Homo sapiens: one gene and its partners. The protein of the gene in region 1 purifies or fractionates together with the protein of each later gene. This does not show direct contact. Each region holds a gene or a part of one and is shown in the gene's direction. Other genes may lie near its edges.

Region 1 (4,545 bases):
GAGACATTGCCCCACTCCCTTCTTGCCCTCTGTGCTGGTCCCAGTCCCTCTCCACCTCGTGAACCCTTGCAGCAGGCTCGCCCCAGCTCTTCTGCCTCTGCGGCCCCCACTTCTGACCACCCTCAGAGCCTCCCCAGTGCTGCTGTCCAGGGTCATGGCACTCCCTGATTCACATCCCCCAGTAATTCCCATTGCTTAGGAAAGAATATTCGGCTTCCTTGACCACACAGTCCACCTGGTGCCACCTGTCTACCTCTTTCCTGCCCCGCCCCAGCCCCCACTGTACCTGCGGCTTCCTTGGCTCCTCTCCGTTCTCCCCAGCACCCTGCTCTTGGGGTCCTCTGGGCCAGAGCAGCTCTCCTCTCTAGTCAGGCCCAGGGTGCTCACCTGGTCTACACCCACCTACCGTCTCTCTTTTGTGCTTGCTCCCCTCCAGCCCCCAAGGGCCTCAGGGCTCCTCCAAGGCCCTGCTGACCCCAGCCCCTCTCCCCTGCCACCCCCATCCCTTTTGATAGGCGTTCTCATTCTCTGAAGCCTTGCTCAGTCATTTGGAGACTTGTGTTTTCTCTCCTCTGGCTCCAAGCGAGAGCAGGGCTGGGAGGTCTAGTTTACCACAGCCCACCCCCGTGCCCCCACCCAGCGTACCACGGTCCCCCTCTCCACTTCGCTGAGGCCCCGCTTGGTTCTGCTGTGGCCCCCAGCTTATCGCCAGCTATAGTAGGGCATATATGGGTATATTTATGCTCCCCTAAACATACTCCTGTTATCCTCTCTGGATCTTTTGTTCCTGAGGTAGAGACCATGCTGTTGGTCTTCAGATCACCTCTGCCACCTGACTGCCAACTCAGGTCTCAGCTCACTGCTAGATACCTCCACCCACAGCCTGCAGTCAGGGTTGGGTGACTGGCATCCCTTGTGTCCCAGTTGAGGCAGTGGGAACAGGAGGGGTGGAGCCGGCTGCTGTTGTGATGATCATGTGCTGCCTTCCTGCGTTGGAGTGTTCCACTTGCCCATTGTTGGAGGCGAGGAGACTGTGCCACTGAGGCACCTGTGCCAGCCCCCACCCGAAGAAGGACGCCATGTGCGTCTTCTAACCCTCCTCCTCTTCCCGCCTGTAGGTCCCGCAGGCTCCCGATGGCGAGATTACGGCGCCCTGGCCATCATCATGGCAGGCATTGCATTTGGCTTTCACCAGCTCTACAAGGTGAGTCACCCCCAGCGGCTGCAGGTGCTGTGCCCCTGCCACCCTGTGGCATTCAGCACCCTTTCACTGGTTCCCCTGCATGGAGGCACTGCCGTGCTCTGCCCTGGAGTGTGTTGGCAGTGAGAGGCTGTGGTAGAGGTCGGGGTTCACAGCTGGATCCAGGCAGACCCTGCCCTGCTGTGGGGCTTGGCAGGCTCTGCCCACCTTTTCTCCAGTGCTCAGCATATACCACCCAGATCTCCACTTGCAGGGGCGTCGTGAGGTCTGTCCCTTGCCAGCCCATGTCAGGCACTTACAGTAGTGCCCGCACGGGGAAGCCGTGCGAGCAGTTTTGAGACACAGAATAACATAATGGCGAAGAGCATGGACGCTGGGCCAGCTGCTTTGCTGAGCCCTGGCTCTGCCCCTCAGGAGCTTGGTGATCACAGGCTCTGGTCTGTAAAATGGGAATAACAGTCCCCACTTCACAAGGTTGTCGTGAAGTCCGGAAGAGTCAGTCTCCCTTGTAGAGGACTCAGAGCCATGCCCGGCACATGGAAGTGCTTTATACACCATTGTTCTGCCACAGCATTTAAGAGCGGCGGTGAGAACCTCAGTGTCATCAGATGTATGGGAGCTGTTCTTTTTGCTCTGTCTGTTGTGCTGCCATCTATAGAAATCTAGGATTTCCCAGGCTTCTCAAGTCAACTTTCAGGATCCCAGGTTCATTGCTTGCAACAGAACTGCAGGCATGACGTGAACATTGACTCCCTTGTGAAGGCCCAACTTGGACGTGAAGCAAATGAGTCTAGAGTCTAGAAAATGCAGGCCAGGGTAGGTGCCCAGTCCAGATCTTGGGACCCTGTAGAGAAGCCTCTTTTCTTTCGAGGCTGCCAGCTCCTCCACCCCTGATTGGTGATTTTTTTTTTTTTTTTTTTGAGATGGAGTCTCGCTCTGTCACCTAGGCCGGAGTGCAGTGGCATGATCTCGGCTCACTGCAAGCTCCGCCTCCTGAGTTCAAGCAATTCTCCTGTCTCAGCTTCCTGAGTAGCTGGGATTATAGGCGTGCTGGTGCATGCCTGGCTAATTTTTGTACTTTTAGTAGAGATGGGGTTTCACTGTTGGCCAGGCCGGTCTCGAACTCCTGACCTCAGGTGATCCGCCCACCTCGGCCTCCCAAAGTGCCAGGATTACAGGCTTGAGCCACCGTGCCCGGCTGGTGATTTTCTTTTTTAAACAACCTGAATGAGCACTCAGACTCGCCATGGTCACTCTTAGCACATGAAACATGGTCAGCCATGGTATTCCAGATTCTTCATTTTTGATGTAATACAAAAGCTAATGACAGTTGTAGCAGAATATAATTTTTTAAGTGTAGCATGTATTCCTGGAGCTGGACATTTCCATGTTAGAAATTGAGAAACAAGGGCTGGGCGCGGTGGCTCACGCCTGTAATCCCAGCACTTTGGGAGGCTGAGGCTGAGGATCCTGACTTGATCACGAGGTCAGTAGATCGAGACCATCCTGGCTAACACGGTGAAACCCCGACTCTACTAAAAATACAAAAAATTAGCCCAGCATGGCGGCGGGCACCTGCAGTCCCAGCTACTGGGGAGGCTGAGGCAGGAGAATGGGGTGAACCTGGGAGGCGGAGCTTGCAGTAAGCCAAGATCATGCCACTGCACTCTAGCCTGGGTGACAGAGCAAGACTCCTTCTCAAAAAAGAAAAAGAAAAAGAAAAAGAAATTGAGAAACAAAACATCCTGGGTTGGCCCAGGTGCCGTGGCTCACACCTCTAATCCCAGTACTTTGGGAGGCCAGGGCAGGCAGATTGCTTGAGCCCAGAAGTTTGATATTAGCCTGGCCAACATGGTGAAACTGTGTCTCTACCAAACAATAAAATAAAATAAAATAAAATAAAATAAAATAAAATAAATAAGCTAGGCATGGTGGTGTGAGCCTGTAGTCCCAGCTATACTCGGGAGGCTGAGGGTGGTGGGAGGATCACTTGGGCTCGGGAGGTGGAGGTTGCAGTGAACTGAGATCACACTACTGCACTCCAGCCTCGGCAACAGAAGGAGACCCTGTCTCAATTTAAAAAACAAAATAAGCCAGGCGCAGTGGCTCATGCCTGTAATCCCAGGACTTTGGGAGGCTGAGGTGGGCGGATCACTTGAGGTCAGGAGTTTGAGACCAGCCTGGCCAACAAGGTGAAACCCTGTCTCTACTGATAATACAAAAATTAGCTGGGTGTCATGGCGTGCACCTGTAATCCCAGCTACTTGGGAGGCTGAGGCAGGAGAATCACTTGAGCCTGGGAGGCATAGGTTGCAGTGAGCCTGCAGTGAGCCGAGATTGTGCCACTGCACTCCAGCGTGGGTGAAAGAGCGAGACTTTGTCTCAAATAAATACATAAATAAACAGAACAGAACAAAAACACCTCTTGGGACCCGGTTCTTCTCCCTCTGAACTGGTGCCCCCTTCAAATCACTGACTGTATACAAGCACCAAGAAGAATGTGACACGAACGCCAGAGTCCTCAGATGAATGCCCTGGCTGTAATGAGCAGTAGGCACTGTCACATGGCCACCCATGGAGGGCCTGTGGCCTGACGGGAGCGGGAGGGCAGCTCGGCAGCCCGCCTTAGCGTGGGCACTCACACGGAGCTGCCACTTGTAGTTTCTACGAAGCTCTGGGCTCTCCGCTCTGTTTTAAAAAGAAAAGAAACATTGCAATATCAGTCACAATGGTAACAAGAGAATTTCTAAAGCATCTGCTCAGTTTCTCGAAATTAAAAAAAAAAAAAAAAAGAAATGGTAAAAAGCCCTCGACTGGCTTTATAAGCACGTGAAGACTTTGGCTAGGGCAGCGTGTCTGCTCCTGCCCTTAGGACTTCTGATCTCAGAAATGGGGTGTTTAGTTGGTTACACACACATATATGAATTCTTTTTTTTTTTTTTTTTTTTTTGAGACACAGTCTAACTCTGTTACCCGGGCTGGAGTGCAGTGGCATGATCTCTGCTCACTGCAGCCTCTGCCTCCCGGGTTCAAGCGATTCTCCAGCCACAGCCTCCCGAGGAGCTGGGATTACAGGCATGCGCCACCACACTCAGCTAATCTTTATATTTTTAGTAGAGACGGAGTTTCACTGTGTTGGCCAGGCTGGTCTCGAACGCCTGACCTCATGATCTGCCCACCTCAGCCTCCCAAAGTGCTGGGATTACAAGCGTGAGCCACCGCGCCCGGCCAAGAATTCTTTACCTTTCTTGCTGAGGACATTTCATCCTGAAGTGTAAGGCTACCTTTGATGAGTTTTGGCTCAGTTGTGGGTAATAGCTCACACTGTGGTTGAAAAGCACTTT
Region 2 (4,545 bases), on another chromosome or scaffold:
TGTAAATTGGAGATATTGAAGACTAGACCTCAATTTGTTAACGAAAATGTATTTACTGAACAAAGAAACCATTTATCACTGCAGCAATTTTACTTGGAACCAGTTCCAAAGTATAGTGAAGTTGAGAATCCAATTTTTTTAACAGCCTTATTTCAGCAAAGATACTAATGAACTGGAATAGTTCAGCCCTGGTGAACCATGTCCTAAAGGAAGTTTCCTAAAATGCCACTTGCCTGGAACCAGTATTATACTGCATTTCTTTTCAGAATATCAGCCTTCTAACAATTTCTGTGATTCTTGGTGAACTCCAGTGTACTTTTAGGGGTTGTGTTAAAGGAATTCTCCAACTCTTGTCCCTTTGTCTCTTGGTCTCCCTTCCTCACCTTCCTAGGGATTTCACTCCTTGCCTGTGGTATTCATATATTTAATTGCAGTGTGTTGCCATAGCAAACTTCAGCAAAAAAATGTTTTGCGAGCTTTGATATAGAAAGGTCTGCATGAAAGCTACTCTGTCAACTGGTAGCTGTATATGCAGTGGCTCTGGTCTCATCATCGTTAGTGCACCCTCAGAATCTACCTTCCAAAGGTTTTATTCTTTTTTTTGAGACGGAGTTTCGCTCTTTTGCCCAGGCTGGAGTGAAGTGGTGTGATCTCGGCTCACTGCAACCTCTCTCCCCAGGTTCAAGCGATTCTCCTGTCTCAGTCTCAGCTGGGATTATAGGCGCCCATCACCATGCCCGGCTAATTTTTGTATTTTTAGTAGAGACGGGATTTCGACATGTTGGCCAGGCTGGTCTCGAACTCCTGACCTCAGGTGATCCACCCGCCTTGGCCTCCCAAAGTGCTAGGGTTACAGGTGTGAGCCACCGCTACTGGCCAGGTTTTTATTCTTATATATAAGATTAAGAGGAGAAATAACCAACCAGTTCGTAAATTTTGCTTAGGTAAATTACACTAATAATGAAAGATCTATTTTTTTGCTGCCTCAAAGCCCTGAAAACTGTATTTCAGTATGAAAAGTCTGGCTAGTTTTATATTTCCTGAATTTCATATTTTATAATTTTATATTTCAGTATGAAAAATCTGGATGGACTTGGGTTATAACTTTTTCCTGAATGTTTTTCCCTGAATATCTGTAAATTACAAGGGAGCCATAATATTCTGGACTTTGTTTCTCATTGAAGTAGGGAGGATTTGGATTAGTTGATTTTTACTGATAGTGAAGAATTTTACTCTCAATTTGTAAAAAGCAAAACATGCATGTAAGTATATACCTAGAAATGCTACTTTTTAATTACAGTTTTCATGGGAATAACGTGATTTTTTAAATTGGAATTATATTCCCATTTCAATAAACCATATAACATTTTTTACCTTATGGTAATATTGTGTACTTATAGATGTGAAGTCTTTGTAGCTATTTTAGCTTCCTACTTCTTAGCACTCAGTGCTTTTAAAAAATTCCTTATGATTTCTCTATGTGTAGATAATTCCTGGAAGCATTTACATGAAGCTGTTCATTGTGGTTGTCTTTGGGGTCTTGAATGGTAAAGAGATTTCATTTTTATACCCTTTTCTACAGTTGAAAACAAAATTTTTTTTTTACCACATGCATCTCTTTTAAATCTTGGTAAAATATTTTAGGGAGGCATATTCTAAAGTTATTTGAGTATTTGATGGTTTTGTTTGCATTTTAGCCATGACGAAGATGAAATTCGGCCTGTTCAACAGCAGGACCTGCATCGGGCAATTGAAAAGATGAAGAAATCAAAGGATGCAGCATTTCAGAATGTTTTAACACATGTTTGTTTAGATTAAGAGTAAAGATCATTTGTACAGTTCAGTGATCTAGTTTGGTGTGTCCTCTTATCAGTTAGTGGAAATAGAACGGAAAGAGTGCTCTTTAAACAATGAGGGAGCTCAGTGTTTATGGTTTTATACTCTGAATTCTAAGTTATTGAGATATAGTTGTTACATAGGTGGTATTACTGTTGGTCAAAAATCATGAGGAGGAACAGTTGAATCCAGCCTGAACGTGGGTGCTTGTGTTTGACCTTTTCAGCCATATATTGTACAGCCTTATAGAATCTAAGCTGGTCTTAAAGTCATAAATGATTCATTGGGTCATTAGTGAGAAACGGGGATGTGGTTAGGTGCTGGTTCCTAGACATGTGAGTATGCGTTTGTGTGTGTGCGTGTATGTATGTGTATATTAAATGTATATATCCACACATTTTATATTGACATTCTGTAGATATGTTTGAATATAGAAACTTTTTTTACCCCAACTACTGAATCCAGGAGTACCAAATAATATATAGTAAAACTAAGATTTAAGGTTGTGTCAAAAAGGTACAGTGATTCAGCCATTTCCATTTGTCATTTGTTTCAACCTTTTTTAAGTTGAGTGTTTTTATTTCTGCAGTTATTAGTTGGATCCTCCACATCTTGCATATATACATGGGCTCAATTATTATGTTTGTCAGGATAATCAAATGAAAATACTAGTTCAGTGATCAGCATTGAATGGTTGTTAGGCAGCCATGTGCTCAACACTGATTTCACCTCTTGAGTATAAACTTTTTAAATTTAAATTGGTTTACATGAAAGTGGATTAAAAGGCCTTTCAAAAGAATGGGTTTGAAAAACCTCAGTACCCTTTAATACATGTACATTTCTTTCCTTTTTTCATTTAATGTAACATGTCTGTTGTAACTATGTTTCTTAAATATTATTTTAAGGTTATGTGTTCTTTAATTATGGTCAAATATAATTTGGTCACCAAAAATGAAATAATAGTTTAAAACAAGTAGCTGTTACTAAGTGTGCTAAAAATACTCATTTTATAATTAATTTTAGTTTTCTTAGTATATTATTATAAATTGTGCCCTAAGTCAGGTACAAATGTACACATCAAAATGCCCATATTGTATCTATCTGTAGTCGTTTAATGTGAATTATATGTGAATTTTTTTCAAAATTTTACTAACCAGAATTCTGTTATAGGCACCTAACCACGCAGCATGAGGAAAACGGCACAACACAATCTTGAGGTGCCTTCTGAATCATCAGATTAAATTATGCTTCATATGTTTTTGCTTTTACTGTATTTCTTTAAAAACTCTAAATCTTTATTCATGTGTCACTGGATTAATTTATCTGATAATGTGTCTCACAAGAATCTGTTAGATCGTTTATTCTTCAGTTGTACTTTGAATGGTGGGGTGGAAGTTTCAGGTGAACAATGGATAACAAAAAGCAAGTTATGGAAGATTGTGAAGAGGATGGAAAAACTGAATACAAGATACCAAAAATGAAAAAAAGTGTCCCATTTTTAATAACTATATTCTATTATTTTATAAATGTGTAATAAAGGGGTCCCTCTTTATTGGTTGTTCTCCACTTAATCTTTGGTCTTTTTCAGTAATTTTAAGTTTTCTGGGATTTTTTTTGGTTTATAAAACTTGTGTTTAGACTTTATCTTGCTATGGAGTTTTCACACTTCTATAGCACATATCCTAGTATCTAGTCATTTCTGTTTTAATATGAATTTCAGTAATTTAATTTTAATCTGGTGACATATTAATCGAAAATAAGGAGTAATGTATACCTCCACATGTCCTTTCTTTTTGTCTTCTCTTAAATTCACAATATCCAGTAGGAGTGGTTATTCAATTTCTTCGTGGTTTTAATCATCAAATGAAGTTAGAGAAGTATACTAATCCCAGCAACTATGACTCATCTAGGCATGTTAAGACCATAAAGTAATTCAGGAAACTATTTTCCTGATTTTTAAATAACTTTTAGTGTTATGTAACATCTATCCTTCTGTTTTAGACATGCATTTCACATATAGTTGAATTCTAGATTCTAAGATAATTCATTTTGGGTAATACTTCAGAGTACTGGATCTAGAATCAGGCTTCCTGAATTTAAACTCAGGCTCCCCATTAACTGTGTGTCTGTGAGCCCAGTTTCTCATCTGTAAAATGGGGCAACAGTGGCACTCATCTTAAAGGGTTGGATAATAAAATAATGCATGTAAGGCCCTCAGCATAGTGCCTGGCACAGAATTACTGCTCAAATGTTAGCTGTCGTATTAATATTGTCACTTTTGCACACTGATGTACATTTCCTGTTGACCAGGCTCATTCTTTAAGCATTCTCCATGCTTAAACCAGTTCCATAATCCCTAGGCCTGTACTCCAGGGATTGAGACTGAAAGGATCATTTATGCCATGTTTCTCTAAAAGCATCATTGCTGGAAGACTTTTGATAAGTCTGATGTGTCTCAAGCTATTCTCAGGCCTTTTTTGTAGAGTTTAGAAATGAAGTATTTGAATCAATTTAGTATCTCCTTTACTATGTTTCTCCTTTTAATCTCAGCCAACCCCCTACCTGCAGGTAAACCCAGCATTCATTAAGAGCTGGGTTGGGGTACTCTATTCTGTATGCATCATAATAGCTTAACATTATTTAGTAGCTGTAACTTACAGGTTTAATGCTAGATGAGGATGTCTCAAGCCGTGAGTGTGCTTGTGTAAA
Region 3 (4,545 bases), on another chromosome or scaffold:
AGACTACTGGGCTCAAGTGATCTGCCTGGCTTAGCCTCCAAAAGTGCTGGGATTACAGGCATTAGCCACCACACCTGGCCCCTAGAATAGTTTTTACGTCAATTTATTAACTCTATTTGTCAAATGCTTGGGATCACAGGAATGAAAGGCATTATGCAAAACAGATATCTATACATAGAAAAATGGTGTTTGCAATATAAATTATCGTTATTTTATCATAAGAGCCACATTTAAGCCAAATACACGTAAATGAAAACCGAGAAATCCAGTTTCTGTGCAAAAAAAAAAAAAAAGAGAGCACTGCAAACAAATGTTCATCTGCCCCCAACTTCTTAATCCTTAGCACAAAACCAATTTAAAGAAGTAATTTATTTTTCTTTTTTGATGTAACACTTTTTAAATGGAAATAACATCTTACCTGGGCCCCAAACTACTTACAAAATGGTTTCCAGGTATTTTGCATATGTTTACATGAATCATCTCACTAAGATCCTGAGAGTGATGTGAATTCTGGCCTCACTGTCTGTGCAGCCCAGGGCTCCATGCACTGGAATTACTTCCCCATCATGGGAGTGTGTGCCAGAGCCCTTCTTTTCTGGCAGCCCTTGTAAGTTTAAAAGAAAAACGGGAGCTGAATGGGTTTGATAAGGACATTGAGATAATGGAGTAAATTAGAATTCGGAGATAAGATGAAAGCTATTATGTAATTATTGAAAGTATAATTAAGTAAACAGTATTGTTTTCTAACTTACTTTAAATGTCACTAAATGTATCCATTTAATAATTTAGCTAATTAGGGTCTTCAGTTATTTTGTGTAACAGATAAATACAGGAAGAGAAAAGAAGGTGCTTGTGGTGATACCCTTTGGTTAGTGATTCCTCTGTAGAAATAGCAAAAGACATATGTGATTGCCAAGAAGGAAATTATCCAGGGCCAGTCAATATCAACTGGACCAATGAGTCACAAGTGACCAGGAGACACCTTATATTGTGTTTAGAGAGAAAGCAATAATTCCATGAGACTTCCTTTGAGTACTGGTATAAAAACCAAGCTTCACTTGTTCCTTTGTTAAGGATTCTGTATACAGTAAGATTAGCTGTTCATACCATTCATTTATACACATAATGGATTGTGAAATGTTAATCCTTAGCTATATGCAGGTGACCAGTATGTCCTGGGTTTTTTAAATCAGTAGTGCATAATCAGAACTGGCTACATCCTTAGCAGGGCTCAGAGCAAAATAAAAATGCAGTGCCCTGTTTTTAAAATTATTAAGGATTTTAGGATGATGACAGAAGAGAATAAAACCCTGGGCATGGGACCCTGTGCGGCTGCACAGATTGCATACCCACGGAGCCAGCCCTGCATTTGATAGCTGTCAGATGTAAAGGCAGACTTCTATTTATATATGCAGCTTTCAGTCAATTGCATGAATGTGTAAATTGTCAAAGAGAAATGTGATGGCCAGGTCCTTACTGTGAGTAAAGGACCAGGAACAGGACCAAAGTTTGAAAGGACTAAAGAAAGCCCCTTCTAACATTACAGCTCTATGTCTCTTGGTTATCTTCAGCCCATTTTCCCTTCAGTTCCTAAAGAAAACCATAGGATAGAATTATATCCTATAATTATAGGCCATATAGGTAACAGGAGGATATGACTTATGTGATATATATTCTTCTTGTAAAAATAATGTCAGGTATTTATCGGGGACTGCAGGGTGGGCCTTCTTCCTCTCCTAGATGAAGAACTGAGGTTCAGACAGCTAATTATGGAAGATAATTAGCTGGGATAATTATGGAAGATAATGCAGCTGGGATCCAAGTTCTTCATCACTCTAGTCCACTGCCTGTCTCATAGGATTCCAGTTGATCCTGCAAGACAAGAGTAGCTTACAAAGGGTTTGCATATACCTTAATCTCATATCTCATTCCCAGTAGCACCCTTGTGAAATTGGCAGTGTTATCCCCAATTTACACACAGGGAAACAGAACTTCAGAGAAGTTATGTCATGTTGCAAGGTCTTAAGATAGCAAATGGCAGAGCTAAAACTAAAGTCTGCTTTTCAAGTCATGAGTCCAGCCATGTTTTCTCTGCTCCCTACTTTGGGGACCCAGCTACTTCCCCTACATATGCCATTCCTTTTCAATCTAACTCTATTGGTTTAATTCTTTTCCACTAGACTTTGTTTAACAGATGTTGCATTTCCCAGAGGAAAAGTGAATCTCCTCTACACTCTAAATAGCTAAAAGTATTATTGATGAAAGGACTTCAATTCCCTATAGAATTTTAGTTCTAGAAGCATATCTGAATAATGTAGGGGTTTTCTTAAGTGCAGTGAGAGGTAATTGAGGAAGTGGAGGAGGAAGCTGCCAAGAGTCAGAGTTCTCTCAAAGATGACTCCAACTTCTACAATTGACCTTGCTAGAAACAAGAAAATGAGACTTAGATATTGGGCCAGGACAGCTCAGGAATTATATCTTCCATTGGGAAAGGCTTCCTGTACCTATGTTACTATGAAATGTTACAGCTTAGTTTCATGCATATGGCTGGTGTGATCCAGTTACTTATTTTAAAAAGAGAGTTGATTTCCTTTGTTTATATGCTGGCAGTGAAAAACAGAATGACAGTTCGACTTAAGAATGAGGGCTTGTTCTCAGTACAGAAACAGAAGTAGCCTAGTTCAAGAAGTGCGGACCACCGCTTTGTACAATGGTCTCCAAACTTTGGTCACTTCATCAGGAAATAGTATGAGCACTTCTCTCCATACATAGTTATTTGTAAAGTATACATGCTTCTGCTATTGTACTCTAAAACGTGCTGTATTATATACCAAAAAAGTCCAAAAAATGAGAAAAAATAAATAGAAATAGGAGTTCTAATATTCTTTTTGCTTCCCCAGTGAATGTCTTGCTCACTTCACTTTAAAAAAACACTGCTTTCTGTGTTTTTGTTTTTGTTTTTGTTTTTGTTTTTGTTTTTCGGGTTTTTTGAGACAGAGTCTTTCTCTGTCGCTGAGGCTGGAGTACAGCAGTGCAATCTCGGCTCGCTGCAATCTCTGCCTACTCTGTTCAAGTGATTTTCCTGCCTCAGCCTCCTGAGTAGCTGGGATTACAAGTGTGCACCACCACGCCCAGCTAATTTTTGTATTTTTAGTAGAGATGGGGTTTCGCCATGTTGGCCAGGCTGGTCTCACTCTCCTGACCTCAAGTGATCCACCTGCCTCAGCCTCTCAAACTGCTGGTATTACAGGAATGAGCCACCACACCCAGCCAGAAAACACTGCTTTCTAAAGAATATGCATCTAGCCAGAACTTTGTGTTTTAACATTTTCGATTAAAAATTGAAATTATATATCTGACATTAACTTAATGATCATCATTTACTTTCATACAGCCCTTATCAATTCCAAAAAGCTATTTTCTTTCATCTAAGTCACAATCACTTGGGAATTTATTAAAATGCAAATTGATGGGCCCCACCAGAGAGCTACATAACAAGAAATTCCTGTGGGAGGAGCCCAGGCAGCCTTTATTTTAACTAGCCTATGTTTTTAACCAGATGATTCTGATGTACACTTAAGTTTTAGAACCCCCATCTATGGCCTGGTGCCATGGCATGCGCCTGTAGTCCTGGCTACTCGGGAGGCTGAGGTGGGAAGATAGCTTAAGCCAGGAGTTTGAGACCAACCTGGGCAACATAGTTAGACCCCACCCAGGTGATTAGGTCAATTGAATCTGACTTTTGTCAACAAATTCTTCTAATATGTTTTTTAAATGCACAAAATGTCAAAGTTGAGATTTAATGATGCTTTTTACAATTTCAGGATTTACTTCAGATGCAATATGAAGGAGTAGCTGTAATGAAAATGTTTGATAAGGTTAAAGTGAATGTAAACCTTCTCATATACCTGCTGAACAAGAAGTTCTATGGAAAGTGAAGTGCCTACAGAAATTTCTTGGATTCTGTATCATCTGGATTAGGAAATGAATTTGTTTAATATTTTTGTTTTTAAACATGATTGAAATCACTGCTTATAAATGTGTGATTTTTTTAAAACGACCAAAACTGTTCTGAAGAATGTACCCAGGTGCCTTTTTGCTAATTTGATACTATAATAGAATGAGACATAAAATGAATTAATGGAAACATATCCACACTGTACTGTGATATAGGTACTCTGATTTAAAACTTTGGACATCCTGTGATCTGTTTTAAAGTTGGGGGGTGGGAAATTTAGCTGACTAGGGACAAACATGTAAACCTATTTTCCTATGAAAAAAATTTTAAATGTCCCACTTGAATAACGTAATTCTTCATAGTTTTTTTAATCTATGGATAAATGGAAACCTAATTATTTGTAATGAATTATTTAGACAGTTCTAAGCCCTGTCTTCTGGGAGTTATCAATTTTAAAGAGAACTTTTGTGCAATTCAAATGAAGTTTTTATAAGTAATTGAAAATGACAACACAATAACACTTTCTGTATAAAAGTATATATTTTATGTGATTTATTCCTACTAAATGAAAGTGCACTACTGCCTCA
Region 4 (4,487 bases), on another chromosome or scaffold:
CATCTACTGGACAAAGTATTATGACTTTAAAAACCCCATTATTGAAAAGTACCTGAGAAGGCAGCTCACGAAACCCAGGTATGCTATCCCCACATGGCTTAGCTCCCCTATGTAAATGAACACCTGGATACAGGTACAGTGCCTTGGAAATGGAGGAGGTGGGAGGGCTCCCCACTTAGTGAGAATCTCCTGTTGCCCATCATTGTACTGGGCATTTTACTACTGCCATCTGTTTTAAACACCTACCTCCAACCCTGTGAGGCAGGCACTATGCCAATTATTTTACAGGTGAGTAAACTGAGGTTCTGAGAGGTAAGGAGCTTGTCCAACCCTTAACAGAAAATGAGTAAAATAGCTGCAGTTTGAACTGAAATAAGAACAGCAGCAACAACAATGATAGTAATTGCTCCCAGGTATTGAAAGCTTGTTGTAAGACTAACACATGCTAATATAATAGTAAAAATTATTAGCAATATTACTGATATGTATGTTATGTTCTAGTCGCTGTGCTGAGCATTTCATATAACTGGGCTTTTTCTATCCTCACAGCATAGCCTTTGAGATAGGTATGTGGAACTATTCCCATTTTACAGATAAGAATCCTGAGGCTTAGAGAGTTCAAGTGACCTACCCAAGGGCACATCACTGATAAAGGGCAGAGGTGGGATTCAAACCCACATCTGTCAGGTGCAAGTGCAAGGCTCCTTCTCCTCATGCTCACTGCCTGCTGGGGAATAGGGCACTGGGGACATACCCCAGGGAGCCCTTCCTCATGTTCTGAGTCCCAGTTCATCCCATGCTGCTATTTTGCTCTCCCAGGAGCATCTGGACTCCCTAGACAGAGCCCCAGCTTCTCACCTGTCCCTCTCTAAATGCTGCTCTGCAGGCCTGTGATCCTGGACCCGGCGGACCCTACAGGAAACTTGGGTGGTGGAGACCCAAAGGGTTGGAGGCAGCTGGCACAAGAGGCTGAGGCCTGGCTGAATTACCCATGCTTTAAGAATTGGGATGGGTCCCCAGTGAGCTCCTGGATTCTGCTGGTGAGACCTCCTGCTTCCTCCCTGCCATTCATCCCTGCCCCTCTCCATGAAGCTTGAGACATATAGCTGGAGACCATTCTTTCCAAAGAACTTACCTCTTGCCAAAGGCCATTTATATTCATATAGTGACAGGCTGTGCTCCATATTTTACAGTCATTTTGGTCACAATCGAGGGTTTCTGGAATTTTCACATCCCTTGTCCAGAATTCATTCCCCTAAGAGTAATAATAAATAATCTCTAACACCATTTATTGACTGTCTGCTTCGGGCTCAGGTTCTGTCCTAAGCCCTTTAATATGCACTCTCTCATTAAATAGTCACAACAATCCCATGAGGCATTTTTAAAAATTTTTTATTATTTTAGATTCAGAGGGCACATGTGCCATTTGTTACACAGCTATATTGTGTAATGGTGGGGTTTGGGCCTCTATTGATCCTGTCGCCCAAATAGTGAACAGAGTACCCAAAAAGAATTTTTTCAACCTTTGCCTTTCTCCCTTCCTCCTCCCTGTTGGAGTCCCTAGTGTCTATTGTTCCCATCTTTAGCAGATGTTAAGTATTTGATTTTCTGTTTCTGGGTTAATTCACTTCGGATAATGGCCTCCAGCTGCAACCATGATTTCATTCTTTCTTATGGCTGCATAATACTCCATGGTGTAGATATACCACACTTTCTTTATCCAGTTCACACTGATGGGCACTTAAGTTGATTCCATGACTTTGCTATTGTGAATCGTACTGCGATAAACATACGAGTGCCGGTGTCTTTTGATAGAATGATTTCTTTACCTTTGGGTAGATACCGAGTAGTGGGATTGCTGGGTTGAATGGACATTCTACTTTTAGTTATTTGAAAAGTCCCATGAGGCATGTTTTCTATCATTCCCATCTTACAGATGAGACAAAGGCTCAGAGAGGTGAGGTCACTTGCTCAAGGACATCAGCTAACAAGTGGTGGAAATGGAATTCAAGCTCAGTGGACTCTAAAGCCAGTGCTCATGTCACTGTGCTAAACAGCCTGCCTTGTCACATCCCCACCTCTCATCTGACCAATGGGAGACTCTGAGCAGCTGAGTGACTTGGGTTGTCACACAGCTAAACAGGGGCAAAGGACCCAGTCTTGGATCTTTCCACCTCCAAGCAGGAATCTGTCTGATTCCAGGGGATTGATGATGTTGCAGATGGCTAGGAAGCAGACTCCAGGATGGAATTTAGTATGCAGGATGTTCTGGGGGAGAGCCACTGGAACCAGCACTCAGGGAAAGGGGGGAAGAAAGGATAGGAAGGAAGCATGAAAGAGAATAGGGAGAAGTGAACAGGGATGCAGAGCGAATGCCAGTTTCAGCCAACTCCAAGGACAGCCCTGGAGCTGGAATGGCCTTTAGAGCTGCCCCATGGTGACAGAGGTGGCCAGGCTTCTATACCCCTACGTGGATCACTCACTGTGCTTGGGCACCTTGGGAAAGGGCATGGCTTTGAGCAAAAGGCTCTCTGCAGCTGAGGCAACCCCTAAAAGGGCTGACGGCTGAAGTCTGTCTGCTGACCACTGTCCCAGCAGCTGGGGCTTGTTAGTCCTTCCTCAAAGGGGGATCCAGATGGCATGTCACAGTGTCTACCGTAAATGCTCACTGAATCCAGCTGCAATGCAGGAAGACTCCCTGATGTGATCATGTGTCTCACCCTTTCAGGCTGAAAGCAACAGTGCAGACGATGAGACCGACGATCCCAGGAGGTATCAGAAATATGGTTACATTGGAACACATGAGTACCCTCATTTCTCTCATAGACCCAGCACACTCCAGGCAGCATCCACCCCACAGGCAGAAGAGGACTGGACCTGCACCATCCTCTGAATGCCAGTGCATCTTGGGGGAAAGGGCTCCAGTGTTATCTGGACCAGTTCCTTCATTTTCAGGTGGGACTCTTGATCCAGAGAGGACAAAGCTCCTCAGTGAGCTGGTGTATAATCCAGGACAGAACCCAGGTCTCCTGACTCCTGGCCTTCTATGCCCTCTATCCTATCATAGATAACATTCTCCACAGCCTCACTTCATTCCACCTATTCTCTGAAAATATTCCCTGAGAGAGAACAGAGAGATTTAGATAAGAGAATGAAATTCCAGCCTTGACTTTCTTCTGTGCACCTGATGGGAGGGTAATGTCTAATGTATTATCAATAACAATAAAAATAAAGCAAATACCATTTATTGGGTGTTTATTAACTTCAAGGCACAGAGCCAAGAAGTACAGATGCATATCTAGGGGTATTGTGTGTGTATATACATTGATTCAACAAGAAATATTTATTGAGCACTTACTATGTGCCAAGCATAGCTCTGGGCACTGGGAATATAGCAATGCACAAAAGCAGACAGAAATCCCTGTCCTCATGACCCTGCAGAGCCAAGACTTCCAGAATTTTTTAAATAAAAAAATCCCTGTCCTCATGGAGTTGACATTTGTGCAAAACATCTTAATGTTAGATGGTTTTCCTATTACTAATAATTCTGAAATAAGCATCCTTGATTTATCCTTTCTCCATATCTCTGAGAAAAATTATAGAACCTCCCTGTGTGACACAGCAGCCACTAGCCACATGTATCAAATGCTTAAAATGTAGCTAGTCTAAATCTACATGTGCTGTGAGTGCAAGGTATATACTTGGTTTCAAAGACTTAGTACAAATGAAAAGAATGCCAAGTTCTTGCCAACTGATAATTTTTTTAATTGTGTGCTGAAATGACAATTTTTAAATATATTTGAGTTAAATCAAATGAACTTCATCTCTTTCTTTTCCCTTTTTAATTGTGGCTACTAGAAAATGTGAAATCATACATGTGGCTTGTGTTATATTATGTATTTCTATTGGACAGCTCTGTCCTCCAAGGTAAATCACTGGATTAAAGATTCGACTATACTGACTTACATTGCCACATTGTCACACTGTCCTTGGGACCAAGAATCAACATATCATTCATAAGACTCTAAAATATAAAACTCTCATAAATACTCACAAAAGAACCTAGCATGCTCTGATCACCTGAGTTGCTGGTCACTTTTGGTGGCTGGTAAGCAGCCTTTGGTCCGTCCAGATTATATTCTTCCATTTAGTCCCCCCACATCCCTGTGAGATGGGTTTTGTTGTTATTCTCATAATATTAAGTGGAATAACTTGAGGTTCTAAGAGGTTACAGTGCTTGCCCAGGGTCACCCAGCTGGTCAGGGGCAGAGTCTGAACTTGAACCCTAATCCTTCTCTCTCTAAAGCTCATGTTCTTAATCACTGTAGCATGGTCTTAATGTGTCCTCATTCATTGAAAGCTTATGTTTTCCTACTCTGGCGCCATGAGAACCAGAAGCATCAATGTCCAGGGGCAGGGAAAGATGAATGTCCCAGCTCAACCTGAGCACAGATTCACCCTTCCTCGGTCTTTTTGTCCTATTTGTA
Region 5 (3,572 bases), on another chromosome or scaffold:
CCAGTGTTTATTTTTCCATGGCAACCTTTAATGAAAAACCAAATCATTTCACATTTTCTAAAGTATTTGCTAATAATAAATCAGTGTGCTTTTTTTTTTTTTTTTTTTAAAGAGAAGGGGTCTTGCTATGTTACCTAGACTGATCTCGAACTCCTGGACTCAAGTAATCCTCTTGCCTCAGCTTTATAAGTAGCTGGGACTACAGGTCTACAGGTGTATGCCACTGTGTCCAGCCCAGTGTGCTTGTTCATAGAATGCTGGTATAATGATTGATCATACCTTAGGATAACAGAAATTCTTCCAAGGAAAGAATTGGGAGATAATCCATTTTGATTGTAAATCCAACTTTATACAGTGGAACTCTAGTGGTCTCTGAGGTTTTTACAGCTGGAAATGGATTCCTATACTATTGATGGCTGTGCTACCATTAGACAAGGCATTGTGCTGATTACAAGTTAAAAGTGGATTACTTTATGCTCACTTCCTCTGTTCTCAGATTAGAAGTAAAACCCACATGGTCTCTATCTGGAATCGTACTTAAATGTTTATCAGTTTTGTTAAATTAGTGTCTTAATTTGGGGGTTAAAAATGGGTTAATGTATTTATGCCTAGTGTTCCATTATTGGAACGCTAAGCATGTGGGAGTTGTTTATATCCTACTGCTCAAGGTCATCACCAAGGTCTGATTGAAAAATTCAAAAAATTGCATCCTCAGGCATAAATGGGTTTTAAAGGATGAATTAAGAATATTATTACCACATAGCTAGAATAACTCCTCAATCTGTGTTTACTAAATAAATTCAAACTTTTAATGAAACCTTTGAGGTTAATTGCATTGTAATTAAACTTTCAACAATTGGGTTTAGTTTGAAAATTATTCAACTTGATTTACTCCTTTTGAAAGAAGTAAACACATTTCGGGTATGATCTCATGGTATGGTTTGTGTGGGTGTTTTTATCTTTGTGGAAAATATATTATTAGGTACATGAAGCAGGGGGAAATTAAGACCCTAAATTCGAGGATATTATCTGTATTTAGGAACAGCTGAGCTGTTGATCAAGCGTTTTCTATGTTTGGTTATAAATTTGGGGCAGTTAATTCAGTTATTGTCACAATCAGGGATAAAATGTGATACAAGGGTTTTACGTATTTAGAATGTAGAGCTACCTCTGGGTGTTTCTGATTCCATGTACTGTGTAACTGAACCTTTTTTTATTTCCAGGACTTAGCTTTAGTCTTTTCTCAGATCGAAGTGAGAAACTGATACTTCAGAAAAATATTGAAAATACATCTAACCCTTACACCTTAACCTTGTGTCTGTAGCTCCTGCATTAATAACATTTATCATACTGGTTAGGCTCAGTAATTTACTTACTATAGTTACCTTAAAGAGCCACATTTAGAATATATCATATTCATATAAACTCGATGATAGTTACTTTGTAGCTGAAGGTAAGACTCTCCTTCCCCTCATTTCCTAGCTAGAAAAACCTTGGGCTACCCTAAACAGGCAACATCTACTTTGCATAGAAGTCATTCAGTGTTCAGAATTGTATCTGTGAGGAAAATGTTTTAGAATTGATACAATTTGCAAAATAGTTCTTCTGCCTTCTATAGGTAATGTGGACCGAACTACCATGTACAAATTTCCATCTTCTTCTCTGTTGTGCTATTCTGGAATCAGAAAAGCAGCAAATAATGGAAAAGCATTATGGCTTCAATGAAATACTTAAGGTAGTTATTCCTTTAATTCAGATTTTAGTGTTCTGGCTTTTCTATTTGGTGGTCCTGATATACAGAACGTTTCCTTGGAACATTATTAAATCTCTTGAGTAACTTAAATTGTGTCAATAACAGTGCTAGGAATGACTATCTGAGAATGACAGTTCAAATACATATTGGCCAGTTATTTTTACCTGGCTAATTAGGAAGAAAAGGAAATTCAACAAGTGCTCTTTTATGTAGTTTAGTTTTTCAAAAATTAATTGTCTTTTGATTATAACTTTGAGATATCAGACTTGGAATAGCTGCTGGATTTAATGTTCCATAAGCTTATTAGCTAGTCTTTAGCTTTAAAACTTGAAATAATCTAAAGAAAGATATATTGAATTTCTTACGTATTTGTAGTATATGAATGTTTTTATTTTAAGGATTTTATCTGCAGTGAAATATAACTGGTAATAAATTGTTTATATAATAGAATATAATAGTGTATTCAGTTTCGATATCATTTTATTTTGTTGATACTTTTTAGCATATCAATGAATTGTCCATGAAAATTGATGTGGAAGATATACTCTGCAAGGCAGAAGCAATTTCTCTACAGATGGTAAAATGCAAGGTATACAGTGTTTCAAGTAATTGCAAGATTTGTTTGTTTTTGGTGGGTTGAGATCAAGAAAGATTTTTCTTCTTGGAAATAAAATAGCAACTTTAGTAAGCTGAGGGCAGGCACAAAGTATTGGCTGGCTTTTTGTTTGCTGTTCTAGATTTACAGCACTTAATTGAAAACAGTTGACTATGGCAGATAGGAAACAGCTAATAATAAGGCAAAATGGTAAAAGTAATGAAAATATTTCTATAACAAAGAGGCTGTAGAATTTCAGCAATGATATATTACCCAGTTGAGCTCATGAATGCAGAATAGGCTGTCATATTAAATATGCAGAATCTCTAAACAAAAATGAATGCTAATCAGAAATAATTAAATCAATATTATTTAGCCTGTGTCACTCACTTATATTAGTCAAGTTATTAATTATTTTAAAACAAGGCAAATTTGATGTATTATCTGAATTTGAACCAAAGCAGTATACTTTTGATGTGTTTTAGCTTTTTCTTTCTATTAAGAGAAAGGGCCTTGCTAAGTTGCCCAAGCTGGCCTTGAACTCCTGGGCTCAAGTGATCCTCCTGCCTTAGTTTCCTGAGTAGCTGGGATTACCAGTGCATGCACACCACTGTGCCCACCTCATGACTTTGCTTTTTTTTTGAGACAGAGTCTTGTTCTGTTGTCCAGGCTGGAATGCAGTGGCGTGACCTCGGCTCACTGCAACCTTCTCCTCCTGAGTTCAGTCGATTCTCCTGCCTCAGCTTCCCGAGTAGCTAGGATTACAGGTGCCTGCTACCATGCCTGGCTAATTTTTGTATTTTTAGTAGAGACGAGGTTTCACCATGTTGGCCAGGTTGGTCTAGAATTCCTGACTTCAGGTGATCCACCCACCTCGGCCTCACAAAGTGCTGGGATTACAGGCGTGACCCATCACGCCCGGCCATGACTGCATTTTTTTTTTTTGATACTTCAAGTTCTAGGGTACATGTGCACAACATGCAGGTTTGTTACATAGGTATACATGTGCCACATTGGTTTGCTGCACCCCTTATGACTTTGCATTTTTATGAAAATTCTTGCTTGGTCCTTGTATCATTTGTTCATTGATCCAAACTGTTACTTGGTTCAGTTCTACAAACATTTATTTGATACCTGTTCTCTTCCAAAGCATGTCAATGAGATACTTCTTGCCTTGAAGAACTTTGTTTACTGAGAGAGACAGATGATCTAAGAAAGATATTA
Region 6 (4,545 bases), about 220 Mb from region 1:
CGCCACCCCGCCCTGCTAATGTTTGTATTTTTAGTAAAGACAAGGTCTCACCGTGTTGGCCAGGCCGGTCTTGAACTCCTGACCTCAAGTGATCTACTCACCTCCCAAAGTGCTGGAATTACAGGCATGAGCCACTGTGCCTGGCATGAGCTGAGTTTTTGAGCTGTGAATGGCAGATGAGGGAGAGGAAAACTGTCCTAGATGTTGATGTAAAAAAAACTACTCCCTTGCATATTTGGGGTTAGAATTAGTTAGATTTGGGTGGAAGAAAGGAGACATGAGAAACAAAGTAAGGAAGTAGGCAGATATTTCCTAAAGAAATTTTATGTGTCGTGTTTACATATCCTTAGGGATAAAATCTTAACTTTATGGGAGATTTTAATCTTACATCTATGTGTGTGTGTGTGTATACACATATATATATAAATATATGTGTGTATATGTATTTTTTTTTTGACATGGTGTCTCACTCTGTCACCCAGGCTGGAGTGTAATGGCACAATCTTGGCTCACTGCAACCTCCACCTCCAGGGTTCAAGAGATTCTCCTGTCTCAGCATCCCAAGTAGCTGGGATTACAGTTGCCTGCCACCACACCCGGCTAATTTTTGTATTTTTAGTAGAGTCGGGGTTTCACCATGTCGGCCAGGCTGGTGTCGAACTCCCGGTCTCAAGTGATCCACCTGCCTTGGCCTTCCAAAGTACATTTATATTTTTGAAAGTCTGAGAAGACTATAGGTTTCTGGTGTGATTATCTGTATAGGTAACCTGTTTTGCCTAAGTAGAGACTGTAGGAAGAGAATCAGGTTGGGTAGGGAATCTGATGCATAAAAGTGGAGATCAGTTAGAATGCTATTGCAGTAATCCAGAGAAGTAATGAAGCAGTAACAGTGAGCCCAGGAAGAAGGGAAATTGATGAATTTATGTGATATTTAGGACAGTAAATCATCATCCTTTGGAACCATTTGAATGTGGTGGCTAAGGAAAATAGCATAGTCTGAAGTTCACTGTTGGGTTTCTATGATTTGGCAACTGGGCAGATGATGATGCCTTTCATTGATAAGAAATATGGGGAGAGGAGCAGGTTTGGTCAGGGTAATAGAATTCAGTTTGGGGTGTGTTCAGTTTGTGATGTAAGAGAGAAATATAATGATTTTTAACTTGTGGATTATCATGTTATGAGCCAGATACATTCCATAGTGTTTGGAAGAGATCCAAGTAGGGTTAGAAATATGGTGCCAGAGCAAGAGAGGGGGTCTGGCCTAAATGTATAGATTTTTCAGCATGTAGGTTGTATCTATAGCATTCGGTGAGCCTGAAATCATTCAGTGAGACCCTAGAATGAAAAGAAGACTGAGGATGGGTAACCACTGGTGTGCCATAATCCAGATGATGACTTCCTGTTAAAGTCCAAGTGAAAGATGCAGATGCCTTACTACAGTGTCCCACAAGACTGTACATGATCTCTTAACTGCTATTGCTCTGACTTTACTAATCTTCTTGTTCACTGGGCTTTAGCCACCCTGGCCTTCTGTTTCTCAGACAGTAAAATGCTCTTCCCTCGAATGCTCATAGTCCCTTCTGTGTGGCATGCTATGTTTTCTCAGAAGTTTTATTGCTGGCTCTTTGTATTATTGAGGTCCCAACTCAAATATCACTTCCTCAGAGAGGCCTTCCACAACCATTGAATCTAAAACAGCTATCCAATCACTATTCCTCATTTTCCTCATTAGTTGCCTAATTTTCTTTTTTTGTTGTTGTTAATTTTTGGCTTTTTAATTAATTATTTTTAGAGCCAGGATCTTGCTCTGTCACCTAGAGTGGAGTGCAGTGGCATAGTCATAGCTCACTGTGACCTCCAACTCTTGAGCTCAAGTGATCCTCCCTCCTCAGCCTCCCAGTAGCTAGGACTGTAGGCGCATACCACCACGCCTGACTGGTTTTTTTTTTTATTTTGTGTAGAGACAGGGCCTCACTATGTTGCCAACCTGGTCTCAAACTTCTGGTCTCAAACGATTGATCCTCTTGCCTTGGCCTCCCAGATCACTGGGATTACAGAGTGAGCCACCATGCCCTGACCGCAGCTTTATTTTCCTTATATTCTCTTTCCAGTGGTGTGCTACAGCAGTCTTCTATTGGCTTGCAAGAGCTGATTGTTAAATTTTCATGAAGTTTGTGAGCCCATTCTTAAAACACAGCCATTATTAAAAATTAAATAGCCGGGCGCTGTGGCTTACGCCTGTAATCCCAGCACTTTGGGAGGCCAAAGCAGGCGGATCACCTGAGGTCGGGAGCTCGCGACCAGCCTGACCAACATCGAGAAACCCCGTCTCTACTAAAAACACAAAATTAGCTGGGCATGGTGGCACATGCCTGTAATCCCAGCTACTCGGGAGGCTGAGGCAGGAGAATCGCTTGAACCCGGGAGGTGGAAGTTGCAGTGAGCCGAGATTGCGCCATTGCACTCCAGCCTGGGCAACAAGAGTGAAACTCTGTCTCAAAAAAAAAAATTAAATATTAAATTATGTAAATTTACGATTAAATCCTGTTTTTAAAAAAGGTAATAAATACTGATAACTTAACATTTTCTCATTATTGTACTATTACCTGTGCTCTTGAGATTATTTGTCTATCGTGCTGGAAGGTGGAGATCCTGTATCCTGTATAACTGTGTGCTACTGCTCATTTCTCCCCAGCTTTGCGTTTGCTGGGGTCAGATTGGAAGCTTTAAATCTGCCCTGGTGGGAGCGTATATCCCACAAAAATTGACAAATGCTATAACTCAGAGCTCTCCCATATCAAGCGTTAAATGGTTAAACATTGACCAACATACTACTGGTGGTATCACTAAATGAATTTACCTTGTTTATTTGTTGTCTGTCTTTCCATAAGGACACGTAGGCTCTCAGTGCAGTCCCTGCCTGCCTTGTTCATGCTGTATTCACAGCCTGTAAAACAGTGCCTGGTACACTGTGAGCTCTCAGTCACTATCTGTTGAATGAGTGGATCCTCCAGAGCAGTTAAAAGGGAGGTATAAGAAAGGCCTATTTCACTAGCAGTAGGGAGAGGCCTGCTCTACTAAGTAAGATGGGGGAGAGATAGTTCCCCTAAGGCTTACTTGGGTTCTTCTTTGTGTTATGTTCCTGAGTGAGTAGCCATGTAAATTTACTTACTTAATGATAGTAAAAACTTCTCAAGCATGGTATAGGGAAGGCCAATTAATGAGCAGGAACACTCAACCCTAGCTGCACATAGGAATCACTTGGAGTATTTTTAAAAAGAATTTGGACAGCTGAGCAGCACTCACAGACCAAATTAATCAGAAATCTCTACAGGTGGAACCTGGATATCAGTATTTATTTTGAAGTGCCCCCAGGTTATTTTAATGTGCAGCCTGAGTTTAAAACCACTGGATTCGGCCGGGCGCGTTGGCTCACGCCTGTAATCCCAGCACTTTGGGAGGCCTAGGCAGGTGGATCACGAGGTCAGGAGATCCAGACCATCCTGGCTAACACGGTGAAACCTCGTCTCTACTATAAATACAAAAAATTAGCCGGGCATGGTGGCGGGCGCCTGTAGTCCCAGCCGCTCGGCAGGCTGAGGCAGAATGGCGTGAACCCGGGAGGCGGAGCTTGCAGTGAGCTGAGATCGTGCCACTGCACTCCAGCCTGGGCAACAGAGAGAGACTCCATCTCAAAAAAAAAAACCACTGGATTCGACATCGGGTAAGGGCCAGAATGGGGAGATTTGAGCCTTATACTGTGAATACTGAGGAGCCATCATCGATAGGGTTCAAAAAGTGACTTCATTCTGTAATTTATTTTTTCATTCTACAGTGGCTTGAGTTCATACTAGAAACTGGGAGTACAGAAATGTATAGGACACCTTATCTACCAGATAAGAAGTTCACAGTCTTGTAAGGGAGGCACCAAATACGAGTTTAATGAAGTGTTTTAGAGACCATCTTGAAAATCCGATTATTGAGGGTTCAGTGAAGACTGAAAGGAAAGGATGACCTGTTCAATCTAGGTAAAGGGGAGAACCAGAATATGGGACACAGAAGAGGTAAACACAAGCTCTGGTTGATGGCTAAATATTTCCCAGGTGAACAGTGCGGAAGGAGCATTTGTAAATGCCCCTCTCAATAACTGGTACCACCATCCACCTTGTTCTTCATAAAAGAGACTGTCTCTCTCTTGATCACCACTATATCCTCAGCACATACCACAGTGTCAAGCACATAGGCATTCAGATATTTGAGAATGAATGCTATTCTGTAGAGGGAGCAACTTGAATCAGAGATCTGGGAACACGTAGTGTGTTTAGGGAACTGCAGGTCTTGGCATAGCTGGACTATTGGATTAAGAGGAATGGTCATGAGGCAGGAGGTGGGGGGTCATGAAGAGCCTGGGGTCATATGCTAAGACAGGTGGACTTGATGTAAGTCCACCTTGCAAGTAACAGAACCACGGAAGGATTGTAGATGATCGTATTTGGCAAGCTTTTTCAAAGTATACATGCCTGCTAGTTTCCCTTAGGGGTTCTT
Region 7 (4,545 bases), on another chromosome or scaffold:
TGGTGATGAATAGTATGTAAATAATTTCTATGGATACAAACTTGAAGGGCTGAGAAATGATTAAATGTCTAAATATAATGTATTCTTGCCATTTTGTTAAATTCTAAGCATGCTGTCTTATCTTTTCAGCATATTTGCTATATTTTTCTTCAGTGATTATAGATATTCTTTTTCTATTAGTTTTAGGACTCCTTCTCTCCCTGCCTCCTTTTCTCACTTTCTCCCTCCCTTCCTCCTTTCCTTTCTATTCTTAAGATATAAGAAACATTTTAAACCAGTGTTTTAAAATGATTTGCTTGATTTGGTAACAATAAAGTAATTTACTGAAGTGCATTTTGTTCATTAATTATCTCTTTCCATGCTTTTCAATGTATGTAATTTGAAGTAAAGTGAACAAATTACTTGAAAGATCTTTTTTCCTCCAAAATATGATGAGATGTAGTCAAGAGAATGATCTTCTTGATTGTTAAAAATCAAAGTTTTAATAAACGCTATGTTAAACTTTAGAAACTTATCCTATACATTTGTAGCAATAACAATTTTTATGAAAGAATAGCCATTGGAATAATTTGAAATGAAGGACTGGGAATTAGAATTTGAATTCCTTTAATGACTATTTTGATAAAAGCCTATTTAGACATTTAGTTCATGCTGTGTACACTTCCTCTTGAAATAAGACCTGGAATTACTACTTAAAAAACACTATTATGATTTGTTCCTAGCCAATTTTATTCTATATTAGCAGAACAAATGTACTTTGAGTACCATTACCTCATGTGGCTATTGTGCTATGCCTTTTACTATTTATAAGGATTCAGCATGGACTGAATTCTGTTTATAAGAGTGCATCCCCTGATCCCCACTTCCCCCCCAAAAAATGCCCAAAATACCAAGGCCCAGTCTCTATCAGTGTATTTACATTAGAATTTTGGGGGATGGGACCTCATAGGGTTTCTTTGTTTGTTTGTTTTAAAGGGCTCCAGCTGATTATAAAGCCAGGTTTAGTAACAGTTGTATTAAATCAGAAAGCCTTTATGTTTGTTCATCTTGACATTTACTTTAGCAGCCTTTTATTTTATCTGGATTATTATATTCTTTTTCATATGAGGCAAAAATAATAAATTTTAAACTTTGTACTGTTTCACAGTGAAATTACACTTCCATTGTAATCAGAATAAATCTTTTTTTTTTCTTCTCCTCCTAAGGTCCAAGAAACTGGAGACATTGTCATTTCAAATGCATATGTGGATCTTGCACCAACATCTGGTACTTCAGCTAAGACACCCTCTGAGGTAGGTTATAAAAATTAGTATCCAAGCCACTTCCTCATTTAGGAATTTCAGTTAAGGTGACTTTAAGAGTGGTTAGGCTACGTTAGAAAATTAACAACCATGAAACTATTCTTAATTCTTGAAGTGAAAAACATTAATTCAAAACAGCTTGGAATAGAAGGAATACTCTGGCAATTTATGAACTTTAAAAAACTCGTTTTGCAGGATACTAGGATATCTTTCAAGAGAACATAATTTTCTAGTTTTAGAATAAATAAATCAGTTGTTTAATCAGAATCTTAAGCAAACAGCGTTTTGGAGAAAAATAGATTAAAAAGTTGAATATCCTGTACCTTTTTCTTGATTTAAAGGTTTATATAAAGTTTTGTATGCAAATATATAAACCAGCAGCGTGTATAATTTATTAAAACATTGTATTATTTATTAGCATGCTGAGACTTTTGATAAAAATGTTTATATTCTATCTCTGAAATATTAACTTTGTAATGTTGAGGTTTCGATACCCATGATCTTTAATTGTCTGTCATAAACCATATAACTGACTGAAAATTAAAATCCCTTAAGAATAGTCTAAGAAAAAAAAAAACTTAGAGCGGGCTCGGTGCCTCACGCCTGTAATCCCAGCCCTTTGGGAGGCTGAAGTGGTTAGGTCACTTGAGGTCAGGAGTTCAAGACCAGCCTGGCCAACATGGTGAGACTCCATCTCTACTAAAAATACAAAAATTAGCCAGCCTTGGTGGCAGGCTCCTGTAATCCCAGCTACTCAAGAAGCTGAAGCAGGAGAATCACGGGAACCCGGGAGGTGGAGGTTGCAGTGAGCCAAGATTGCACTACTGCATTCTAGCCTGGGCGACAAGTCTGTCTCAAAAAAAAAAAAAAAAAACAAAAAACAAAAAAAACCCAAAACTTAAGTTTTAGAGCTGTAAAGAAATTCAGACTTCATGTAATTTAGTATTATTTTATAAATAAAAAAAATGAGACCATAGAAGTTGATTAATTTGATCAGGATCTTTCTAAAGTTAGCTAAAACATAGGTTGTCCAGTTCCTATTTTTCTTTTAAAATATTATTTCTGAATTCTAATAAAAGTAAAATCCTGTTATTAAGAGGACTGAGGTTCTGAGTGATGTATACAAATAAGAAAGTATGAAAGACACATTGTATGAAGAAAACTGACTTATGTACAGAGTTTTAAAAAATCTTTTTTTTGCACATGTTTTATAATCACTTTTCTCCATGAGTTATTTTTACAGAACTTTTAAAGTTTATTTTGTTGTCGTTGTTAGGGCGGGAAGCTTCAGAGTACCTTTGTATTTGAGGAAATAGGACGCCGCCTAAAGGATATTGGGCCTGAGGTGGTGAAGAAAGTAAATGCTGTATTTGAGTGGCATATAACCAAAGGCGGAAATATTGGGGCTAAGTGGAGTAAGTTATAGCCCTGATTTTATAATATTCTAAGGTAATTCTTAGTAAATAAAGTATCTTTTTAACAATTAAAGACCTTTGAAGGTAGGTAAATCTTACCTTTTTAGGTAAGTTTTTTTTCTTTTCCCGTGGGAATGAATAGGTTTGGGAATGTCCAAAGGGGGGTGTGTGTGTGTGTGTGTGTGTGTGTGTTTGTGTGTGTGTGTAAGAGATGTAGGGAATCAATTGAAATGAAAATAACCTGTTTTAAGATTTCATTGTAATCCTTGAAAGTAGTTTAAACAGTCATCTTGGCTATATGCATCTTTATCTAATCTTCAGCTTCTTAAACATAAGGCAAATTCATCAAGTCAAAATGAAGTATTTTTAAGTCATGATATTTGACAGTTACAAAATTATTTTATTCATACCAAAACAATAATTTGGATTATCTTAATTATCAATATAAAATCACTATTTTCTAGATATATACAGATTATGGTCAAAGGTGTTTGTTTATCTAATCTAGGGAAATTATCTATTAGAGTGCCATGCACCCAATATAAAACATCTTGCCGCAGAAAGAAAGCAGTCATATTTCTTTTCACTGATGTGGAGGTCCAAAGAGACCCTGGTACCATTTTGTGAAGAAAGAGAAATTAGAGGATAAAAAGAATAAAGAAAAAATATTCTGTCAGATCTTTTGCATCTGCTGTGTAACTCACATCCTTAATCATGGCACACACTTTAATTATGGAATATTCTAACCTCACCTTTATTTTCCTAGAGATTCTTCAATTAGGTTGAAAAGATGAAAATGGATAGGAGGTAGAGCAGTAAGTCCCTGAATTCCCTTTCAGCAGAGTCTGTTGCTTGTCACAGTTATCTTACTGTATTATGGTCATTTATAATTGTATGTTTTCTCTCATTTGACTTTGGGCTTAATCCTGAGAAATGGCTGCAGTTTGTCTATTTCTAGCTTCTAGTATAGTCAATAACACATAATAACTAGCCTGATTCTGTATATGTTGGAATGAGTGCTAAAAGCCATGTAGAAAGCATAGTTTTAGAAAATAGTATGGCTGCCTTTTAAAAAAAAGGTTCTGAAATTGATGCTTTACCTTCTATTAAAATAATGTTTATTGTATGGATAGTGATGTTTATTTTTTGTTTAGTATGAGTGAAATATGTAAGTATAATATGATACTGAGATATTTCATAAATAACTAACATATTTTATAGTATTTATTACTATTAATTTCTAAACCCAGCCAGAAGTTGTTGTAGTAAACCCTTTGAATCCTATTTTATTGTTCTAAGCAACGGTAAAAAATCGGAGGAAATGAAAGATGACATAAAGGCATAAGGGAGATAAAGAATCAGAGGATTTATGTGGCCTACAGAATAGTCTGCTCTTGAAAATTAAAACATAGGTACTCTTATCTGAAACTCCAGAAACCAAAAAGCTCTAAAAATAAACAGTTTTTTTTCTCATGATTCACTGGTGGTGAAGTGTGACTTGAACTTATATGATGCTGTTGATTGTCTTTAACTCAGCTAGTGTGAGTTAGACAAGTATAGAAGTAATATGCACGTTTATAGATTGTTGCACCATTGGGGGCCTTTTGTAATATGGAATACATGTTTTATGTATTATATTTCCTTTCTAAAATCTGATTCCAAATTCCAAAACACATCAGCCTGAAGCAGTTCATTCAGATAAGGACTTGTGGACCTGTACATGTATATAAATAATTCTTGTAGAACACAAGTGATAAGAGACATGGAAAAAAGTGCTCTCTGCTTTCAGAGAATGGGAGGATTGGTTCATTCAATGAACATTTGAGTAT

The links.
Region 2: the proteins of PEX14 (region 1) and ATAD1 purify together in Homo sapiens (co-purification; one study listed by BioGRID and IntAct). This does not show direct contact.
Region 3: the proteins of PEX14 (region 1) and IQGAP2 purify together in Homo sapiens (co-purification; one study listed by BioGRID and IntAct). This does not show direct contact.
Region 4: the proteins of PEX14 (region 1) and OAS1 purify together in Homo sapiens (co-immunoprecipitation; one large-scale study listed by IntAct). This does not show direct contact.
Region 5: the proteins of PEX14 (region 1) and TBC1D15 purify together in Homo sapiens (co-immunoprecipitation; one large-scale study listed by IntAct). This does not show direct contact.
Region 6: the proteins of PEX14 (region 1) and GNPAT purify together in Homo sapiens (co-purification; one study listed by BioGRID and IntAct). This does not show direct contact.
Region 7: the proteins of PEX14 (region 1) and HSD17B4 purify together in Homo sapiens (co-purification; one study listed by BioGRID and IntAct). This does not show direct contact.

What each region holds. Positions count from the first base shown.
Region 1 is NC_000001.11:10,617,214-10,621,758, forward strand, and holds part of PEX14 (peroxisomal membrane protein PEX14), read left to right. Parts: intron 1-1,118; coding exon 1,119-1,204; intron 1,205-4,545. UniProt on the Homo sapiens protein: Component of the PEX13-PEX14 docking complex, a translocon channel that specifically mediates the import of peroxisomal cargo proteins bound to PEX5 receptor.
Region 2 is NC_000010.11:87,751,960-87,756,504, reverse strand, and holds part of ATAD1 (outer mitochondrial transmembrane helix translocase), read left to right. Parts: intron 1-1,697; coding exon 1,698-1,818; 3' UTR 1,819-4,545. UniProt on the Homo sapiens protein: Outer mitochondrial translocase required to remove mislocalized tail-anchored transmembrane proteins on mitochondria.
Region 3 is NC_000005.10:76,703,376-76,707,920, forward strand, and holds part of IQGAP2 (ras GTPase-activating-like protein IQGAP2), read left to right. Parts: intron 1-3,824; coding exon 3,825-3,938; 3' UTR 3,939-4,545. UniProt on the Homo sapiens protein: Binds to activated CDC42 and RAC1 but does not seem to stimulate their GTPase activity. Associates with calmodulin.
Region 4 is NC_000012.12:112,916,661-112,921,147, forward strand, and holds the end of OAS1 (2'-5'-oligoadenylate synthase 1), read left to right. Parts: coding exon 1-78; intron 79-886; coding exon 887-1,040; coding exon of another isoform or gene 1,041-1,097; exon of another isoform or gene 1,098-1,936; coding exon of another isoform or gene 1,937-2,053; exon of another isoform or gene 2,054-2,728; coding exon 2,729-2,893; coding exon of another isoform or gene 2,894-3,033; 3' UTR 3,034-3,243; downstream 3,244-4,487.
Region 5 is NC_000012.12:71,919,113-71,922,684, forward strand, and holds part of TBC1D15 (TBC1 domain family member 15), read left to right. Parts: intron 1-1,600; exon of another isoform or gene 1,601-1,618; coding exon 1,619-1,735; intron 1,736-2,255; coding exon 2,256-2,342; intron 2,343-3,572. UniProt on the Homo sapiens protein: Acts as a GTPase activating protein for RAB7A. Does not act on RAB4, RAB5 or RAB6.
Region 6 is NC_000001.11:231,243,472-231,248,016, forward strand, and holds part of GNPAT (dihydroxyacetone phosphate acyltransferase), read left to right. Parts: intron 1-4,545. UniProt on the Homo sapiens protein: Dihydroxyacetonephosphate acyltransferase catalyzing the first step in the biosynthesis of plasmalogens, a subset of phospholipids that differ from other glycerolipids by having an alkyl chain attached through a vinyl ether linkage at the sn-1 position of the glycerol backbone, and which unique physical properties have an impact on various aspects of cell signaling and membrane biology.
Region 7 is NC_000005.10:119,528,689-119,533,233, forward strand, and holds part of HSD17B4 (peroxisomal multifunctional enzyme type 2), read left to right. Parts: intron 1-1,205; coding exon 1,206-1,292; intron 1,293-2,577; coding exon 2,578-2,716; intron 2,717-4,545. UniProt on the Homo sapiens protein: Bifunctional enzyme acting on the peroxisomal fatty acid beta-oxidation pathway.